Homo sapiens: one gene and its partners. Each later gene encodes a partner of the first gene's protein in a complex. Each region holds a gene or a part of one and is shown in the gene's direction. Other genes may lie near its edges.

Region 1 (7,013 bases):
GGGGGTTGCAGTGAGCTGAGATTGCGCCACTGCACTCCAGACTGGGTGAGAGAGCGAGGCTCCATCTCAAAAAAATAAAAAAAGTTACTTTCGGCCACATGTGGTGATTCACACCTGTAATCTCAGCACTTTGGGAAGCCAAGGCGGGCAGATCACTTGAGCCCAGAAATTTGAGACCAGCCTGGGCAACATGGTGAGACCCTGTCTCTACAAAGAATACAAAAATTAGCTGGGCATCGTGATGTGCACCTGTAGTCCTAGCTACTTGGGAGGCTGAGGTGGGAGGATCACCTGAGCCCCATGATCACGCCATTGCACTCCAACCTGGGCAACAGGTAAGACCCTGTCTCAAAAAACAACAATGAAAACCACTACCTTCATAGCATTGTCATGAAGATAAATAACACATAAATGCAATGGAGTACAAAACCCAGAGTCTAGTTGACTGGAATAAGTGCTTTAAAAAAAATAGCTATTATTGGCCGGGTATGGTGGCTTACACCTGTAATCCCAGGACTTTGGGAGGCCGAGGCAGGCAGATCACAAGGTCAGGAGATCGAGACCATCCTGGCTACCACAGTGAAACCCCATCTCTACTAAAAATACAAAAATTAGCCGGGCGTGGTGGCACGCACCTGTAGTCCCAGCTACTTGGGAGGCTGAGGCAGGAGAATCACTTGAACCCGGGGGGTGGAGGTTGCAGTGAGCCAAGATCATGCCACTGTACTCCAGCCTGGGTGACAGAGTGAGACTCCATCTAAAAAAAAAAAAAAAAAAAGCTATCATTAACAATTGCCATTAATAGTTGATCACTTTATGCAATTTAATTTTATTTATTTTTTTAGTAGAGACAGGGTTTCACCATGTTAGCCAGGATGGTCTTGATCTCCTGACCTCGTGATCCACCTGCCTCGGCCTCCCAAAGTGCTGGGATTACAGGCGTGAGCCACTGCGCCTGGCCGCAATTTACTTCATTGAATCTCCAACAAGAGTCCTGTGAGGTAAGCACTATCGTTATCACTGTTTAGAGTTTCAGAGGGGTTTAGAGGCTTCCCAAGATCACACAATACATAAATAGCAGAACCAAGCTTCAAAACCAGGTCTGTTTGTCTCCAGAATCCTTGCTCTTTATCAAGCCACGTACAGAGACATTGTGGTTGTTCAACTCATTCATTTATTCACTCTCTGAGCTTACAAAATGCTTAAGAAGTGGCAAGACAATTCTTCCCTTCAAGAAACTTAGAGTCTAATGGGAAAGGCAGGTTATGTCCACAAATAACTACACCTCAAAGTAGAAAATGATGATTTTTGTCAATAAGGGCCAGTTAGAGATTAATTTATTCATATAACACGTACTGAGAGCTGCTGTGGGCTGGGCCCTCTGCCAAGCACTGGGTATAATTCAAAGATAAATATGGCACAGTCTAGTCATAATCTAATGGGAGAGACAGGTATGTAAAGAAATTATTATAGTTATAAGGAATTAAGTTATGATTTTAAAATATGACAAAATACAGAGTGGAAGAAACAAACTGTGTTGGGATAGGGGGCAGAGGCAGAGACTGAATAAACTTTCAGCTGCCAAAAAATGTAAAAGAGCACAGAAAATGTGTGATGGCAGCTCAGGGGGAGTGTGCATTTTCTGGAGGATGCAAGAAGGCTTCATGGAGGAGGTGGCACGTGGGTTGGCACTTGTTTGATGGGTAGCTTTTAGTAGAGGGTTGAACCAGAGAGAGCCTGGAGGCCTAGAAGCCAGTTATAGGGGAGAATCATAGCGAGGCAAGCAATGAGGAGGACAGGGCAGTGACAGAGGTGGTGAGGAGGGAGTGAAGGGAGGGATGCCAGAGAGGACTGGTTCAGTGGGAACAAGTCTGTTTTTAATTTTTTTATTTTATTAATATTATTTATTTACTTATTTTGTGTGTGTGTGATGGACTCTAGCTCTGTCACCTAGGCTGGAGTGCAGTGGTGCGATCTCGGCTCACTGCAACCTTTGCCTCCACACCCGGCTAATTTTTTGTATTTTTGGTAGAGATGCCTGCAATCCCAGCACTTTGAGAGGCCAAGGTGGGTGGATCACTTGAGGTCAGGAGCTCGAGACCAGACTGGCCAACATGGTGAAACTCCGTCTCTACTAAAAATACAAAAAATAGATAGGCATGGTGGTGTGCACCTGTAGTCCCAGCTACTCGAGAGGCTGAGGCAGGAGAATCGTTTGAACCCAGGAGGTGGAGATTACAGTGAGCCAAGATCGCACCACTGCACTCCAGCCTAGGTGACAGAGTGAGACTCTGTCTCAAAAAAAAAAAAAAAAAAAAAAAAAAGAAGGAAGCCTATCTGACTATTGCTTCTCCCCCGCCATCCTTCTTACAGCGTGAAAAGTGTTGTTGTAGAGAAATGTACAGAAGGGGTAACTGGCTCTGTCTGGGGACGAGGAAAGGCTTCCCGAAGGAGGTAAATTTTCAGCTAAACTTCTCAGGATGTAGAGTGCTTCCTCCAGTTGTGGGAGAGAGAGAGGAGGATATTTCAGGTGAAGCGAACAGCTTTCCCCGCTGACCCTGTGTTAAGTTGCCCAGGGGCTCTACGGCGAAGGTTCCCCAGAGGAAGGGATCTTCCATACTTCAATGAGGCACTTTAAGAAACCCTTGAGTTCAGCTGGAATTCAGACCTTCCAGAGCTACCAGAAAAACATCATGTGGGAAATTGTGCCCGGCGCGGTGGCTCACGCCTGTAATCCCAGCACTTTGGGAGGCCGAGGCGGGCGGATCACGAGGTCAGGAGATCGAGACCATCCTGGCTAACATGGTGAAACCCCATCTCTACTACAAACGTAAAAAATCAGCCAGGTGTGGTGGCAGGGGCCTGTAGTCCCAGCTACTGGGGAGGCTGAGGCAGGGGAATGGCGTGAACCTGGGAGGCAGAGATTGCAGTGAGCTGAGATCATGCCACTGCACTCGACAGAGCGAGACTCCGTCTCAAAAAAAAAAAAAAAAAAAGCGTCATGTGGGAAATGGCTTTTCCAGCCTCCTGTAGGGGCCGCTGCTGCCCCAGACTCAGCCAGTCTTGTCTAAGAAAACTCAGAGGACGTCTCTGCTGGGGTGGTGGTGGGGTACACCCTGGACCTGCCGCCATCCAAGGAGTGAACTTAAGGGCGACAGTGCCCCCAAGCCTGAAGAATATGCACTCAGTCAATGGCATTTGGGGGTAGGGAGGGGGTGTAGTGGGCACTGATATTTTTCAGTCTCTGGGTCACCACAAGTTTATTAAAATAAAAGAAAATGTGGGTAAATGCTGCCATCTGTGCTGTCCCTACTCCCAATACACACACACAGGCACACACACACACAGGCACACACACACACAGGCACATAAACACACACACACACACACACACACACACACACACACGCATAACAAATCAGGTCCCAGACTAGATGCAGGAGTTGAAACTGCTTTAAAAACACTCTAAGAACTTAACTACAAACCCACACTCCCCATGCTTCTGGGGCTTAAGATCTTTGAGCTCATTCTTCAGCATCTCTCCTCGGGAAAGTGGGGTGGGCTGCTCCATGAGGTGGAGGTGAAGACCCCTGAGTCTGCCCTGTGGAGGGGGAGGCCCCCTAAGCCTAGAGTCCCGCTGCAGGGCTCTGTGCCAGGAGCCCCCGTGAGCCATGGCCTCGAAAGGGCAGCGGTGATTTTTTTCACATAAATATATCGCACTTAAATGAGTTTAGACAGCATGACATCAGAGAGTAATTAAATTGGTTTGGGTTGGAATTCCGTTTCCAATTCCTGAGTTCAGGTTTGTAAAAGATTTTTCTGAGCACCTGCAGGCCTGTGAGTGTGTGTGTGTGTGTGTGTGTGTGTGTGTGTGAAGTATTTTCACTGGAAAGGATTCAAAACTAGGGGGAAAAAAAAACTGGAGCACACAGGCAGCATTACGCCATTCTTCCTTCTTGGAAAAATCCCTCAGCCTTATACAAGCCTCCTTCAAGCCCTCAGTCAGTTGTGCAGGAGAAAGGGGGCGGTCGGCTTTCTCCTTTCAAGAACGAGTTATTTTCAGCTGCTGACTGGAGACGGTGCACGTCTGGATACGAGAGCATTTCCACTATGGGACTGGATACAAACACACACCCGGCAGACTTCAAGAGTCTCAGACTGAGGAGAAAGCCTTTCCTTCTGCTGCTACTGCTGCTGCCGCTGCTTTTGAAAGTCCACTCCTTTCATGGTTTTTCCTGCCAAACCAGAGGCACCTTCGCTGCTGCCGCTGTTCTCTTTGGTGTCATTCAGCGGCTGGCCAGAGGATGAGACTCCCCAAACTCCTCACTTTCTTGCTTTGGTACCTGGCTTGGCTGGACCTGGAATTCATCTGCACTGTGTTGGGTGCCCCTGACTTGGGCCAGAGACCCCAGGGGACCAGGCCAGGATTGGCCAAAGCAGAGGCCAAGGAGAGGCCCCCCCTGGCCCGGAACGTCTTCAGGCCAGGGGGTCACAGCTATGGTGGGGGGGCCACCAATGCCAATGCCAGGGCAAAGGGAGGCACCGGGCAGACAGGAGGCCTGACACAGCCCAAGAAGGATGAACCCAAAAAGCTGCCCCCCAGACCGGGCGGCCCTGAACCCAAGCCAGGACACCCTCCCCAAACAAGGCAGGCTACAGCCCGGACTGTGACCCCAAAAGGACAGCTTCCCGGAGGCAAGGCACCCCCAAAAGCAGGATCTGTCCCCAGCTCCTTCCTGCTGAAGAAGGCCAGGGAGCCCGGGCCCCCACGAGAGCCCAAGGAGCCGTTTCGCCCACCCCCCATCACACCCCACGAGTACATGCTCTCGCTGTACAGGACGCTGTCCGATGCTGACAGAAAGGGAGGCAACAGCAGCGTGAAGTTGGAGGCTGGCCTGGCCAACACCATCACCAGCTTTATTGACAAAGGGCAAGGTGAGGGGGCGGGGTGGCAGGGGCACGGCTCAGAGGGAGGGGCATCTGCATGAATGGAGGGGCTTTCAAAGCCCTGGCACTGCCCTGGTGGGAGACACTGTGTGCATCTGGCCCGGGGTGGGTGTCTGGGGACACTGACACATATCTCACACATAGCAGATCCTAGGCTGCCCACACATCAGGGCTGGAGGGCACCTAGGAAGCACCAGGTCCAACGCCTGCAAGGTGCAGAGTGGGCACTAAAGCCTAGAGAAGAGACAAGACCTGCCAGTTCGTGGCAGAGTTGGAGACCAGATTCCGAGACTTGATTGCTCAGTTGTGCATCTGTACCTGCTGGGCTGGCCGAACTTTCCAAGCTTCACAGGTTTGTAGGCGGTCTCAGACGGCAGAGAAAGAAATGAATCTTGAGGTCCCCATGCTTCTGCAACTTTGCCCTCAGGCAAGGGGATAGAGGAGGCAAGAGAGGTGCACACAGTAAATGGGGCATCTTGGAGTCATGGAATGATGTTCAGATACATGGGGAGGGAGCAGACCCAGGGCCTAACTCGCAGTATGACCTTGGGAAAGCTCCTTCTCACTTGGGGTCTCCGTTTTCCCATCTGTACACCTATATGGGGTTGGACAGGGTGGTTTCTGAGAGCCCTTCCAACATGAAAACTTTAGATGCTGTCCTGAACATGCCTCATTCTCCTCATTAACTCCAGAGACTACCTGCTCCCCTCTGTCTCTCTCGGCCCACCTAATGTTACTGTTGCAGCTTTTCCTCTCCACTTGCTGTGTGATCTAAGCAAGTCCCTCCCCCTCTCAGGGCCTCAGTTTCTTCCTAGTGTGAAGAGGGAGGTGGGCTGTTGGTCGCTCAAGTTGCCTGCAGCTCATTTGCTCTGGTCCTAGGCTGGCAGGGTGGGGGAGGGGTCAGAGGGTGGGAGAGGCTCCTCATTAGAGCTGGCCTGGAGGGGGCTGCCAGGGGGCGGGGGAGGCACAGAGGCAGCAGGTCTGGCTGAGGTGGGGGAGGTGGTCTGGCTGCCTGCCCAGCCAGGGAAAGCTGTGACCCCTTGGGGGCTCATAAAATAAGTCCGTGTGCCCCCCAGCACTAAGGGAGCTTGGAGAGGGGGAGATGGGGAGTTTAAAGGCCTAATTAGTCACCTTCTAGAGCAATATATGAAAGCTCCCCAATGGCAAATTGCAATTTAGGAAGGAGGGCATGCTGATTCGGAGATACTACTGAGCTTCTCACATACACATACATAGCCTTATGTTTATACACACATGCTGAATCACACATGTACATGCATGCTGACTCACACACACACGTGCTGAATCACACACGTACACACATGCCGAATCACACACATATGCATGTGCACACACACCTTCTTACATACACACACAAGATCAATCATGCATATACAGACATATATGTGCTCTTCAAATAGTCACACAAGCCCAATCATTTATACATATAATGCGTCATTAACGTATACACTCTTTCATATTCACATATGAACCCAATCACACACATGCATACAACTGTAACACACACACATGCTCAGGAGAGTAAGACACATAGGCAACAAAATCCTTGCACTGGAAAGCCAGGAAAATTGGGCTGTAGGTCAGTGTGGACCAGCTTTGTCATTAACTTGCTGTGTGACCTTAGTCAAGTCACTCCCCATCTCTGTGCCTCATCTGCATAACAAGAGCACCAAGGTCTCCTTTAAGGGATGGTGGAAGCAGCTGAGAATTTGAGCAAGTCATCTAACTTCTCTGAACCTTGGGATTCTCCTCTGGAAAAGCGTGTATTTTTTTTTTTTTTTTTTTTTTTTTTTTTTTTTTTTTTTTTTTTTTTTAGCCAGGGTCTTTCTCTGTTGCCCAGGCCGGAGTGCAATAGCGAATTCACGGCTCACTGAAGCCTTGACCTCCCTGGGGTCAATCAATCCTCCCACCTCAGCCTCCTGAGTAGCTGGGACTACATGTGCACGCCACCATGCCTGGTTAATTTTTGTATTTTTTGTAGAGACAGAGTGTCACCATGTTGTGCAGGCTGGTTTCGAACTCCGGAGCTCAAGCAATCCACCCAC
Region 2 (7,086 bases), on another chromosome or scaffold:
CTCATTCAGAGTTTTAGAGACTAGGAAAAAACAAACAAACAACAAAATCAGCCCTCACTATTCTAAACTGTAGTTCAGAAATATCCAACAGAAGCTGAAACTCTATAAGAGGTTCCTTTTAACCTCTCCTTAGGGAAATGGTCCCATAATTCCTTTGGGGCATTCTCTCCCTTGCTACAGCAAGCCAGTAGATTTAACTTTTTTGACTACAGATTTGTTTCCAGTGGTGTTTAGTTAATGAGCTTTGACAAAGATAATGGTCAAATTTCTCCAATATCAATTGACTATGTGAAGAATATACATATATATACACACACACACACACACACATATTTGTGTGTGTGTATGTAATATATACATATTTATATAAGAACATATTGGCAGGGCGCAGTGGCTTATGCCTGTAATCCCAGCACTTTGGAAGGCCAAGGTGGGCGGATCACTTGAGCCCAGGAGTTCGAGACCAGCCTGGCCAACATGGCAAAACCCCATCTCTACTAAAAATACAAAATTAGCTGAGTGTGATGACACATGCCTGTAATCCTAGCTACTCAGGTGGCTGAGGCATGAGAATCACTTGAACCCAGGTGGCAGAGGCTGCAGTGAGCCGAGATCTCTGGGTGACAGAGGGAGACCCTGTCTCAAAAGAAAAAGAAAAGAAAGAACGAACCCAGGTCATTTGTCCTGTAGAGTATTCACAAAGTCTGAATTTGCACCTTTGAGTTACCACTTAATGTCTCCTGTATTTCCTGTAAATTAGTAGTTAGCTCTAATCAGATTCAGACTGGTTTGTTTGTTTGTTTGTTTGTTTGTTTGTTTTTGGTATGGCTACTTCATGCAAGGTGGAGTTATGTACTCTATGATCAGGAAAACATGTTTATCTCTGTTTTCATGATGAATAACAGCCACTGTTTTTTTGTTTACGTAGAGATGGGCTCTTACTATGTTGTCCAGGCTGGTTTTGAACTCCTGGGCTTAAGCAATCCTCCCACCTCAGCCTCCCAAAATGCTGGGATTACAGGTGTGAGCCACTGTGCCCTGCCACAGTCATTGTTGACCATTGCCTAGATATATTAATTCATTTGGATTTACAAAATGTTGATATTCTAATTATATTATCCCTTCTTCAATTATTTACTGGAATGCTTCTATAAAGAGAAATTTCCCCCTCATCTTGAGATACAGTTCCCAAAAGAAAACCAGGATAAATACTTGATTCTTTCCAATTACCAGCAGTTTTTAAAATAATGAGTTGATCTGCCAGCATTCTCCAACAATGACCAATGGGTTTGTATTTTTAAGTATCATTGTGAATTCATGGATTTAAACATATTTTATGAATTTCAATCCATTGCAGATAGTATCCATTTTGATACTTAAATTGCCCCATCTTTGGCCAATGGGAACTATTCTAGTTGGCTCCTAAGTTCTTTTATTACAATCCTAACACTCTTTGAAAGCTTCCTTGCCTATCTTGGACAATACCTGCCCCAAACCTGAAATCAGCCACTTATCCAAGGAGTTGTTTGTTGGTCCCTTTTAACAGAAAATGGTATTTACATAGCACAATTTGAGTACTAGAGGTGTTTATTTTTACTGGATCATTGTTTCCAGGCCTTTTTAGGGTAAAGCTAGGAAAATTTTAAGGATAAAATAAACCATGAGTTCAGAGTTATATTTGCAATTTAAATTCAGAATTACGGAGTTTTCTCTTAACTTCATCAATCGTAAATATGTATCTCTTTATTCCACCCCAAAAATTCTGGTTCTCAGAGACACTAACATTATTAATCATTTGTTTTATCTCATAACTAAAATAATCTCAGAATAACAATACCAACACTAACACCATAATATGGCTATTTAAAAATATTTTTGCATTTATTTTCTGGCATTATAGTATATCCCACTTAGGCTGTCATAGTCAAATTATTATGTTTTAAAGTCACTTGAATAGTTTGGTTAGAAGCATTTTACATTTCTATAATGAAACTGCTTGTGATATGGCCTCTAATGGTTGAGAAATATTTGTCATATATATATACCTGAGAAGTATATATTTGACAAAAATATTTGTCATATATATACCTGAGAAGAGTGCTATGAGGGCCTCTAGACTCTGTATTAAAATAGAGCCAACTGGTAAAGATGGCTTAGTGATTGTGTTGGTTATTACTGAGTGTCAATTTGATTGGATTGAAGGATACAAAGTATTGATCCTGGGTGTGTCTGTGAGGGTGTTGCCAAAAGAAATTAACATTTGAGTCAGTGGGCTGGGAAAGGCAGATCCACCCTTAATCTGGGTGAGCACAATCTAATTCACTGCCAGCACAGCTAGAATAAAAAGCAGGCAGAAAAATATGAAAGGAGAGACTGGCCTAGCCTCCCAGCCTACATATTTCTCCCATGCTGGATGCTTCCTGCCCTTGAACATCAGACTCCAAGTTCTTCAATTTTGAGACTGAGACTGGCTCTCCTTGCCCCTCAAGCTTGCAGACAGCCTACTGTGGGACCCTGTGATTGTGTAAGTTAATACTTAATAAATTCCCCTTTATTTATATATCTACCTATATAGATATCCATATCTATATAGATATTAATAAATCTAGAGAGACAGAAAGCAGACTGGTGATGGCCAGTCTAGATGGCTAGATAGATAGACATGGATATAGATATAGATCTCTATATAGATAGAGGTAGATACAGATATAGATATATGCCCTATTAGTTCTGTTCCTCTAGAGAACCCTAATACAGTGACCGTATTTGGAATCGGTCCTTCTGTTAATTTCACTTGGCAAGTACTAAAAGATGATGATCTCAGATATACCTATGGCTGCAAAAACATGACATGGCTAAATCCCTTGGTTGCAGTATCTCTTTTCTTTTTTAAGGGGGGTGGGGGGGCGGGTCTCACTGTTGCCCAGGCTGGAGTGCAATGGCGTTATCATAGCTCACTGCAGCCTCAAACTCCTGCGCTCAAGTGACCCTCCTGCCTCAGCTCCCAAAGTGCTGAGATTTTGCAATATTTATGGTCACAAGATTATGTTATTCCATAAAAGTATCTTTCTGAGGCTAGGCATGTTGGTTCACACTTGTAATCCCAGCACTCTGAGAGGCTGAGATGGAAGGATTCATTGAGGCAAGGAGTTCAAGACCAGCCTGGTCAACATAGTGAGACCTCATCTCGGAAGGAAGGAAGGAAGGAGGGAGGGAGGGAGGGAGGGAGTGAAGGAAGGAAGGAAGGAAGGAAGGAAGGAAGGAAGGAAGGAAGGAAAAGTATATTTTTGAATCTTTTTCTATTTCTCCAACTCTTTCTTTAGAAGAATTCTATTTCCATTCTTTCTTCACCTCTTTGCCTTTGTTAGCCTTCTCTCCAAGCAAATCGGGAGCCTTTATTTTTTGTGTATTCATGAGGGAGAGGAAGATGAATTGCTGTACAAACTAAAGTAATGAAAATGGAGTAGGTAGGAGGATAGACAGCTGCAAGGATCTGAGCTGGATAGACTGAACAAACCCTCATCCTAAGCAACTCACAGCTCAGATTTCTTCTCTGGACAGCTGGCTTTTTTCGTCCTTCTGAAATACTCTGCAAAGATAGGAGAGGGGCTATGAACTACCTCTGCTATGGATCTTATTCAAAGTCAGCTACCTCCTAGATACTATCTGTAGAACCTAAATGTAATATTCAGCATAGCAGGGATGAACATGGTAAATGAAAGGTATCCAATTGCCCACTGTAATTTTTAAAGGCCAGGAGCTCAACATTATTGAAAATGCTGGAGGGCTGCCTGGAGTAGGCAGTGACCACAGAGTCACACAAGCTGGAATTGGATATCCAACTTGTCTGTCATATTTCTCTCCTCCCTCCCTGACTTGGCACTCAATACTCCATATTCTTTCTAATCCTCTAACCCTCCCCACTCCCCCAACTCCCACACCCTACCCCCACCAACGTTCCTGGAATTTTGGACTTAGCTATTTTTAAAACCGTCAACTCAGTAGCCACCTCCCTCCCTGCTCAGCTGTCCAGTACTCTGGCCAGCCATATACTCCCCCTTCCCCCCATACCAAACCTTCTCTGGTTCCCTGACCTCAGTGAGACAGCAGCCGGCCTGGGGACCTGGGGGAGACACGGAGGACCCCCTGGCTGGAGCTGACCCACAGAGTAGGGAATCATGGCTGGAGAATTGGATAGCAGAGTAATGTTTGACCTCTGGAAACAGTAAGTCAAAATGAAATTGCAATTCCTTTAATAAGCTTTTATATTGAAGTTAGACTTTTATAAAATTACAAACACCTACTTGGATGTCTCTCGTCCAAATGCTGGGATCTCTCCCTACCAAGGTGCCCCAATCTCCATTTCTCTTTCTGTCTTATTTCTTTCTGGCCTCTGGCCTCTAGCTTTTTGAAGTTTAATTCTCTGTCTCTCCTCTGGCAGTCTTAGCCCTCTCTTTACCTTATTACCTCAAGACTCCTGATGAAGTTTTAGAAGGAGTTCCCTACGTCCTCTATTCTGTAGTTTTCTTACCAAGGCCAAATATGACCTCAGATGATGAGTCACTGATACCCTTCTATCCTGCCCCCACTTAGCAATGCCCTTCACATTGAGATTCCAAGCATGGGGGCTGCTCCCTGTAAATGATTTCTCCCCACAACTCTAGTCCCTCCATTCTATTCTCCCTCTTGCAGGACTCTTCCCCCAATCATATCCTTACCCATAAGATAGGGGAGTTAGGCAGGAGGGATTTAGCCCCTCTCCAACTCCTGTCATCATAAAAGACTGAGAACTTCAGAATTTGAAAAGAAGAGATTAATGGAAGGAGTGATATTTGGGAAAATACAAGAACTGTTGACTTAGAAAAAACAAATATTGATTTGCATGTTTGGTTTGCATCCCATTATTCCATGAGAGAGGGAGATTAAAATTGCAGCTCTCTAGAGCTGATGAAAAGAGATTGGTTTCCTTTTCATTTGAATACTGATATTCTAGACGGGATGGGTATGCCACCCTTAATCCTTCTTGTGTTCTGACACAAAGGAGGAAAAGAAATGTATGACTCCTAGAGGGCATCTCCTCCTAATGGAGAGGGACAAATAAGAAGTATGTTTCTGAAATATTTTCAGGTCCTAATTTTACTAGGGTACCCACTAGGATTACTGGTATCTGATCTAGCCCCATGATTCCTCCATCTTTGACATACCTGCTGTTTGGTAGCTCAGAATGGAGCAATACAGTGGACTCTGCCCCCTTGAGTTCACTCAACCTTCCCTCCACCCCCACCTAGGGGTATTGCACAAGGGCCCTAAAAGTGGCCACAGGAACAGGGCAAAGAGGCTTAACTGCCACACTTATAGTTTGAGGAACTCCAATCTCCCCAAATTCCAGTCTGTTCATCCTTTTCTTGATCTCCCCAGATTCACTCCACATTATCCTTACCAATCTTCAATTCTTCTCTCTCTCCATGTCCAGCCAAATTTCTTTTTTCAGTCACTTACAGGGCTTCCGGTCAAAATTCACTAGGTAGGAGGGTCATCAGCTGGGAAGAACCGGCGCCTGGGAAACCTGGCTGGATAGGTATGGGGGAGCCAGGCCAGTCCCCTAGTCCCAGGTCCTCCCATGGCAGTCCCCCAACTCTAAGCACTCTCACTCTCCTGCTGCTCCTCTGTGGACATGGTAAGGAAGGGCCAGGGAAGGGTTTGGGGAAATCTAGAGGGTAGGCTGCTATGTAGGGGTGGGCATGTGAGCCTGAATGAGTGAGGAGAGATAGGCGCTGAGAGTCCCGATCACTCGCCCTGCTCTCAAATACTAATATTTTATTTCCCGTTCAGTCTGGGGAAGGCCACTGGGGAAGCCCTTGGTCGACAGGCAGAAGAGATGTGGCAGGCTTACACACTTTTAGTAAGACAGCCGAGAGAACTAGGGACTAGGGGGTTGGGGGCTGGGGAAGGCCCTTAGTTAGGTTTTAGGAAGGCTGGAAACCCCTGATGAGATTTGGAAGAGTTATGAGCAAACTACACTCCGATAGAGCAGAGGTCTGAGGACCGTCTCACAATCCTCTCCCTTCTGTCTTTAGCTCATTCTCAATGCAAGATCCTCCGCTGCAATGCTGAGTACGTATCGTCCACTCTGAGCCTTAGAGGTGGGGGTTCATCAGGAGCACTTCGAGGAGGAGGAGGAGGAGGCCGGGGTGGAGGGGTGGGCTCTGGCGGCCTCTGTCGAGCCCTCCGCTCCTATGCGCTCTGCACTCGGCGCACCGCCCGCACCTGCCGCGGGGACCTCGCCTTCCATTCGGCGGTACATGGCATCGAAGACCTGATGATCCAGCACAACTGCTCCCGCCAGGGCCCTACAGCCCCTCCCCCGCCCCGGGGCCCCGCCCTTCCAGGCGCGGGCTCCGGCCTCCCTGCCCCGGACCCTTGTGACTATGAAGGCCGGTTTTCCCGGCTGCATGGTCGTCCCCCGGGGTTCTTGCATTGCGCTTCCTTCGGGGACCCCCATGTGCGCAGCTTCCACCATCACTTTCACACATGCCGTGTCCAAGGAGCTTGGCCTCTACTGGATAATGACTTCCTCTTTGTCCAAGCCACCAGCTCCCCCATGGCGTTGGGGGCCAACGCTACCGCCACCCGGAAGGTCAGGCACTCAATCTTCCTTCCGATCCACCTCATGAGATTCTTCCACGGGCACCATTCCTCCCCATCCCCACTATTCAACAGCAATGCTCCCTAATTCCCTTTTCTTCCTCAACCTCTCCCCCATCTCGAATCACTCCCTTCTACCAAACACCTGGAGCTGTAAATCACTTCCCCTTGATGGGAATTTGACTCAAATGCAGAAAACCTTGAAGAGACAGTCGGAGAGGGCGGACCTGAGGAGTTTCAGAAGGGAAACTTTTCCCTCTCCTAGGAAGTTGCCACGATTAAGTAGAGAGGGGGTTAAGTAGGGATGAGGTAATACTGGAACATAAATAGGAGAAGGGATCAAGGATTGAGGGCCATAGTAGTCCTGCATCTCTACTTGGATCAGATCTCTAACTATGTATGAGGTCTGATTGGGGGGAAGATGCACTGAACCCAAAATGA
Region 3 (7,022 bases), on another chromosome or scaffold:
ATTACCCCAAAACATAGCAACTTAGTGCAATAAACATGTATTATTTCATGCAGTTTCTGAGGGCCTGGAATCTGGGAGCAGTTTAGCCAGGTGGCTGTGGCTTAGGGTCTCCCACAATGTTGCAGGCAAGTTGTTGGCTGGGATTGGACAATCTGCTTTCAAGATACTTCGAAGTTATATCTCTTCCAATCATCAAGGCAGGCCTCTTAATGTAGCCACCACTCTCATTTTTCTGGGGAGAAAAGTAAGAGGAAGTAATGTGGCTAAGTTAACAGGCTCGTATTGAACTCCTGATTAGCTTCCTTTCTAGTTGCAGGCTGTGCACTCAGAAATTCAGTAGCCACACACATTAGCATTCTATGTAAAGTATGAGTCAGCTAACATGACTGTAACCCTCACTTGAGAGTAATTGTGTATATGTGCTAGAGTGACAATTGTTTTTATACATCAGAAGCATTTTGTGCTTATTTCTGACATTTTGGTCCTTCTCGCTAATAGTTGGAATTCTACTTGCCCCCATTTCGTACTCTGATAACCCTAACTTTGCATTTCAAACCAAAACATTTAACTAGAGAAGTGTGTTTGCTGTTCAGTTTTTAACTTTTTCGCTGTGGACATTTTCAGGTATAAAAGGAGAAGAATATAATGAACCATCCATGAGTAGTTACTGCAGTCACTACCTCATGGCTACTCTTATTTTATCTATACCCTCCTACATTATTCACTCCCAGCTGTTTTAATTTCAAGCAAATCCCTTGATACTGTTTTGTTGATAATTCTAATATGTATCTCTAAAAGAGAACTCTTTACCAACATAGCTATTAGACCAATTTTACAGTTTAAAAATTAACACTAATTCTTTAATCACCTAATTTTGTATGTGGAAATCTTAATAAGGCACGCCTGCTTAGGCTTGTGTTGGCTGGAAACTTTGTGTCTGCAAATGAAGCCCAGTTTTGTGCTATGGTCAGATGAGGAGTCTGTGGTACCTCCCAGATTGTTTCAATGTAGCTTCATTATTCATTATTCACAATAAAGTCTCATAACATTTGCTGTATTCATGTTTAGATGGAAATTCTCTTAAATTCCAAATTATATTCTTGACTCTTCAACTCTATAACTTGCATTAGTTCAAGTAATTAAAAATTGTACTTTGGCCATGCACAGTGGCTCATGCCTCGTAATCCCAGCACTTTGAGAGATTGAGGCAGGAGGATCACTTGAGCCCAGGAGTTTCAGACCAGCCTGGGAATCACAGTGAGACCCTGTCTCTACAACAAATAGTTTTTTTAAAATTAGCTGGGCATGATCATGTACACCTGTAGTCTCAGCTACTTGGGAGGCTGAGGCAGGAGGATCATTTGAGCCCAGGAGGTTGAGGCTGCAGTGAGCTATGATTGTGCCACTGCACTGAAGCCTGGGTGACAGAGCAAGACCCTGTCTCAAAAAAAAAAAAAATTGTACTTTATTTAAAATACCTTGCTTTTAAAGGGAGTATTTAAAAGAGAAAGCTTTTGATTAATATGGGTAGATACTTGTAAAGGTTTTTTTGTTTGTTTGACTCTTTAAAAATTTTTTGGCTCTATTACAGCTTACTACAGCCTTGACTTCCCAGGCTCCAGCGATCCTCCCATCTCAGCCTCTGGTGTAGCTGGGACTACAGGCACGTGGCACCATGCCTGGCTAATTTACTTTGTATTTTTGGTAGAGACAGGGTTTTGCCATGTTGCCAAGGCTGGTCTCAAACTTCTGAGCTCAAGCGATCTGCCAAGGCTGGTCTCAACCTTCTGAGCTCAAGCAATCTGCCACCTCGGCCTCCCAAGTGCTGGGATTACAGGTGTGAGTCACCGTGCCTGGCCATTAAAAAAATTTAAAAAATTACAATTACAAAAATTAGCTGAGCATGGCGGTGCATGCTTGTAATCCCAGCTACTTGGGAGGCTGAGGCAGGAGAATCACTTGAACCCAGGAGGCGGAGGTTGCAGTGAGCTGAGATCGTGCGACTGCACTCCCACCTGGGCGACAGAGCAAGACTCTGTCTCAAAAAAAAAAATTGTAAAAAAACAAAATACTTCAAAATGTAAAGAGTACTATATCAGTGTAAAAAAACTGGAAAAGCAAATGGAGCTTCACCTAACTCAAATGGTGATTCTAGTAAACAAAATCAGCTAGGACGTATTTTCAGTCACAAATTCATGGATGCTGACATTTCTGATATTCCGTTGTAGCTTCAGAGCCAGGAAACATCAAACTTTTTTCTGGAGTAGTGGACACAACTATCCTGGTGGATGGTAGACTACTTGGATTTAGAAAAGATCTAGGGCTGGGCCGGGCGCGGTGGCTCAAGCCTGTAATCCCAGCACTTCAGAAGGCCGAGGCGGGCGGATCACAAGGTCAGGAGATCAAGACCATCCTGGCTAACATGGTGAAACCCCGTCTCTACTAAAAATACGAAAAATTAGCCAGGCGTGGTGATGGGCGCCTGTAGTCCCAGCTACTCGGGAGGCTGAGGCAGGAGAATGGCGTGAACCCAGGAGGCGGAGCTTGCAGTGAGCCAAGATCATGCCACTGCACTCCAGCCTGGGCGACAGAGCAAGACTCCATTTCAAAAAAAAAAAAAAAAAAAAAAAGAAAAGATCTAGGGCTCAAATATTGAGGATTTTCTTGTTTGTTTATTCACAAACATTTATTGAGTGTTGAAATGAAATGTGATTAGTTCCACTCTTCACCTAGTTTTGTGGACTCCCAAACTCTAGCAGATTATTTCACATTCTGATCTTTAGTTTCCATGTGTTCCTCTTACTATGGCTGTGTGGCAAACCACCCCAAAAACCAGTGGCTGGAAACAGCATTTATTTTGCTCACGAATTTGCATTCTGAGCAGGGCTCTGCGGAAGAGTTCATCTCTGTTCCACGTGGCATTAGCAAGGCGGCTTGAAGGTGGTGGGGGTGGAATTATCTGAAACAGCACTATAGATAGAGCTTTCTGCGATGATGGAAAAGATCTACATCTACCCTGTGCAATACAGTAGAATCTAGCCATACGTGGCTACCAAGTACTTGAAATGTGACTAGTATGGCTGAAAATCTGATTTTAAATTTAATTCAATTTCAATTTCATTAGCTGCATAGCTGCATATGACTAGTGGCCACGTATTGGACATTGAAAATCTGAAGGCTCACTGATAAAGTCTAATACCTGGGCTGGGAAGATTCTTCAGGTATACGTCTCTTCCTGACTTCTCCTCCCCTTCCTCCCTTCTCTATCCCCATCTCCCTCCCTCTCTCCCTTTCACTCTCTCTGTGTATATATGTGTGTGTCTCTGTGATCCTGCTATATGATCTCTCCTGCAGGTCCACCTGGATTTAAGTGGAGGGAACATAGGCCCCACCTCTGTTGGAGGAGTGACAGTGTCATGTTGTAAGCTGAACATGTGGATGGGATATAATGGTGTGGCCATCTGTGGAAAATACACTCTGCCACATATAAACTGTAAAGTGAATTGGCTGGCTAGGTGAGCTCAAAATTTTCTTCTAGTTCTAGGCAGTTTTAAAGAAAGAAACCAACTAGTATGTGTCAAATGTTCTCTTTTTTTCATCAGAGTAATAAATTATTAAATTATTAGAAGGCTACATAGTGAAAAATTGAATCTCTTGATCTAATTCTCCCTACTCATTCTATTACCCTGGGAAAACCGCTTTTAATCTAACTCTTATATTTTTACTTCTGTTAGTAATTTTTAGCCATATGCCTAAATAATATGCTTGTACTACTATTTCTTGATTCATCAGTTTTAGATGTTATATATCTAAAATTGCCTTTCTGCTATAACAGATAAGGTCATAGCTCATCATGTCATCCTTCCCACTCCTGCCCTGCCACACTTGTATCACAGTTTTGAGTTTATCTCTTGGTTATTTTTTCAATTTCTTCAATATATTTAAGGTTTTCTATTCTGTTCTATCAACTGGAGACACTATCTCTTTATTCCTGATGTAAGTGGAGAATATTAATAGTCCTTTCCTTTTAAAGTTTATTTTATTTTATTATTTTTTTTTTTTAGCAATGAGACAGACTATAAGTGAGTTTTAAGAACAGTGCATTTCTTGAGGGAATTGAAGAGAGGGTTTGTTTGGGTTCCAGTCTTGGGAGATCATGTGAAGCTACCATGTTTAACATCATAGAAAGCAAAGAAATCAGTTTTTTCCCTTGCATTTATGAGTACTGCCCTTGAAATTTTCTACTTTTGGCATTCTGATGGGCTACTTTTGGAATTCTGATGGGCTGCATCAAAATCTGTGGGGAACGGAGTGTTACCTGTACTTTTACTTTTATATTGTCAAGGTTGATAACATCTACATTCTGAGAGGCTGCATAGTATAATGGTTAAGCGTATGAACTCTGGAACCAGGCTATCTGAATTTGGATCCAGTTCTGCCACTTACTGGTTGTATGACCTTGGGCAAGTTAGTTAATCTCTCAATGCCTCAATTTCCTCATCTGTAAAGCAGGGATAATAACCATACTGTGCGAGTATTGTGAGGATTAGGTGTAAAGTATTTAGAGCAATGCCTGGCACGTGAGTGCACTATAGGTAATTACTAACCTTATTTCTCTGTTTTGTAACTCTATTTGAATCTTCTAATGCTTTATTTACAGGTATATTCTAAAACTGGCAATAAACCATGTTTATATTGTAATGATTATATAAATATTGTTGACTGTTGACTGTAGTCACATAGGTACTATGATTACATTTCCCTTCTTGAATGATTTTGTTTTTCTTGAGTTTCTAATTATCTTTCTTTACCTTGTATCATCAATCATTAGCACCTTATATTGTTTTAAGTACTTAATGTATTTTTCCTCCCAAATGGAGCCTTCAGTCTTGATGTTTCCAGACTTAACTGATTGCAATCTAGGTCTGATGCAAGCTGTCTTATGGTGACTTTCCATCATTACTTTCCCAAGTTGGTTCCAGTGTTTCTTGGATTTCGTATCTTGTTGTTTTTAACAGTAACCCTTATTTTGTCCCAACATGCCCTCAAGTAACTTCCTAAGAAAGCCTGTGTGGAAAGTAAGCTTTCTGGGTCCTGCATGTCTTGAAGATGTATTTATTCTCACCTTTCACCTGACTGATGGTTTGCCTGAATACAGAATTCTATGTTAAATTCTTTTCCCTCAGAACTTTGGAGACATTTCTCTATTATCTAATAGCATTCCATATTGCCAATAAGAAGTCTGATGCCAGTCTGTTTCTTATTCTCTATAGGTAACTTTGTTATTCTCTCTAGAAACTTTTAGTATCATCTCATTAGCCTTCATATTATGGAATTTAAACTGTTGAGTCTAGTGTTGGTCTTTTCATTCATTCTGTTTGGTATCTTGTGAGTCTTTTGGGGATCAGTTTTGAGCCAAAGACTAGGAAATGCCCTGTTTTGTTTTTTGTTATATATATATATATATATATATATATATATATATATATATATATATATATCTTGTCCTAACATACATACATATATAATATATACGTTTTATATAACTATATTTTTGTATAATATATAATTATGTATAGTGTCCTCTTTTCTTTCTGGAACTCTTATTAGTATAAATCTAAGATGGATTCTCTGTTAGATTTTTTTTAAAAAACAGTTTTATTGAGATATATGATTCATATATTATAAAATTTACCCATTTAAGGGTACAATTGAGTGGTTTTGGCATATCGACAGACTTGTGCAACCATCACCACAATCTAATTTCAGAACATTTTCATTACTTTAGAAGGGAACTCCATACCCTTTAGAAGTCATTTCCTATTCTCTCTCCCCACAAACCCTAGGCAGTTTACTTTCTCTCTACATGCTTGTTCTGGACATTTAATATGAATGGAATCATACCTTGTCTTTTGTGTCTGACTTCTTTCATTGAGCATAATGTTTTCATGGTTCCTGTGTGTTGTAACATATTCAGTATTTCATTCCTTGGTCAAATAATATTCTGCTGAATGGGCATACCACATTTTATTTATCCATTTATTGGTTGGAGGATATTTGAGTTACTTATATTTTTGGCTATGGTAGATAATACTGCTATGAATATTCAAGTTTCAGTGTGTGGATGTATCTTTGTTTGTTTTTTAAGAGATAAACTGTGTTACACAGGTTTGTTTACTGCCTGTGCACACAGGCAGTGGTGCAATCATTGTTCACTGTAACCTTGAACTCCTGGGCTCAAACGATCCTCTCACCTTGGCCTCCCAAGTAGCTAGCACTACAGGTGTGTGCCACCATACCTGGCTAATTAAAAAAATTTTTTGTGTGTGGAGACAGGATCTTATTATGTTGCCCAGGTTGGTCTTGAACTCTTGTCCTCAAACGATCCTCCTGCCTTGGCCCCACAAAGTTCTGGGGTTACAGGTGTGAGCTGCTACAGACAACCCTGGATGTATCTCTTAATTTTTCTTTTGTATATACCTAGGAGTAGAATTGCTGGGCCATATGGCAACTCTGTGTTTAACATTTTGAGGAACTGCTGAAGTGTTTATTCTAAAGTGGCTGCACTATTTTACATTCCTACCAGTTGTGTATGAGAGTTCTAGTTTCCCTATAGCCTCACCAACACTTATCTTTCCTTTTTATTGTAGCACCTTTGTGGAGTGGTTATGATTTGCATTTCCCTAATAGCTAATGATGTTGAGCATCTTTTTATGTGCTTAGTGAATGCATGTGTGTGTGTGTGTGTGTGTGTGTGTGTGTATGTATGTATTTTTTTTTTTTTTTGAGAGAGGATCTTGCTCTGTCACCCAGGCTGGAGTGCAGTGGTGCAATCACGGCTAACAGCAACCTCAACCTCCTGGACTCAAGCAATCCTCCCACCTCAGTCTCCCAAGTAGCTGGGACTATAGGCATGCACCACCATGTCTGGTTAGCTTATTGTATATCTTTGGGGAAATACCTATTGAAAACCAGTGCTCTTTTTTGTGTGTGTGTGTTTGTTTTAGACGAGAGTCTCATTC

The links. The genes of interacting proteins can lie anywhere in the genome.
Region 2: the proteins of GDF5 (region 1) and HJV are in contact, whole or in part, in a crystal structure (PDB 6Z3L), measured with the Homo sapiens proteins. Residues at the interface, in NP_000548.2 of Homo sapiens: Met412, Trp414, Trp417, Phe478, Asp480, Ser481, Lys488, Tyr490, Met493; in NP_001366281.1 of Homo sapiens: Arg95, Arg98, Gly99, Leu101, His104, Ser105, His108.
Region 3: the proteins of GDF5 (region 1) and TWSG1 are in contact, whole or in part, in a crystal structure (PDB 8BWL), measured with the Homo sapiens proteins. Residues at the interface, in NP_000548.2 of Homo sapiens: Glu434, Phe435, Pro436, Ser439, His440, Glu442, Asn445, Val448, Ile449, Leu452, Ser455; in NP_065699.1 of Homo sapiens: Cys26, Lys28, Cys31, Ala32, Ser33, Val35, Ser36, Leu39, Ile40, Cys44, Gln45, Cys46, Arg47, Cys73, Val74.

Annotation. Positions count from the first base shown.
Region 1 is NC_000020.11:35,435,220-35,442,232, reverse strand, and holds the start of GDF5 (growth/differentiation factor 5 preproprotein), read left to right. Parts: upstream 1-4,004; 5' UTR 4,005-4,304; coding exon 4,305-4,935; intron 4,936-7,013. UniProt on the Homo sapiens protein: Growth factor involved in bone and cartilage formation. During cartilage development regulates differentiation of chondrogenic tissue through two pathways.
Region 2 is NC_000001.11:146,018,726-146,025,811, reverse strand, and holds the start of HJV (hemojuvelin isoform a precursor), read left to right. Parts: upstream 1-4,076; 5' UTR 4,077-4,225; intron 4,226-5,473; exon of another isoform or gene 5,474-5,491; 5' UTR 5,492-5,580; coding exon 5,581-5,677; intron 5,678-6,077; coding exon 6,078-6,637; intron 6,638-7,086. UniProt on the Homo sapiens protein: Acts as a bone morphogenetic protein (BMP) coreceptor. Through enhancement of BMP signaling regulates hepcidin (HAMP) expression and regulates iron homeostasis.
Region 3 is NC_000018.10:9,337,761-9,344,782, forward strand, and holds part of TWSG1 (twisted gastrulation protein homolog 1 precursor), read left to right. Parts: intron 1-5,250; exon of another isoform or gene 5,251-5,273; intron 5,274-7,022. UniProt on the Homo sapiens protein: May be involved in dorsoventral axis formation. Seems to antagonize BMP signaling by forming ternary complexes with CHRD and BMPs, thereby preventing BMPs from binding to their receptors.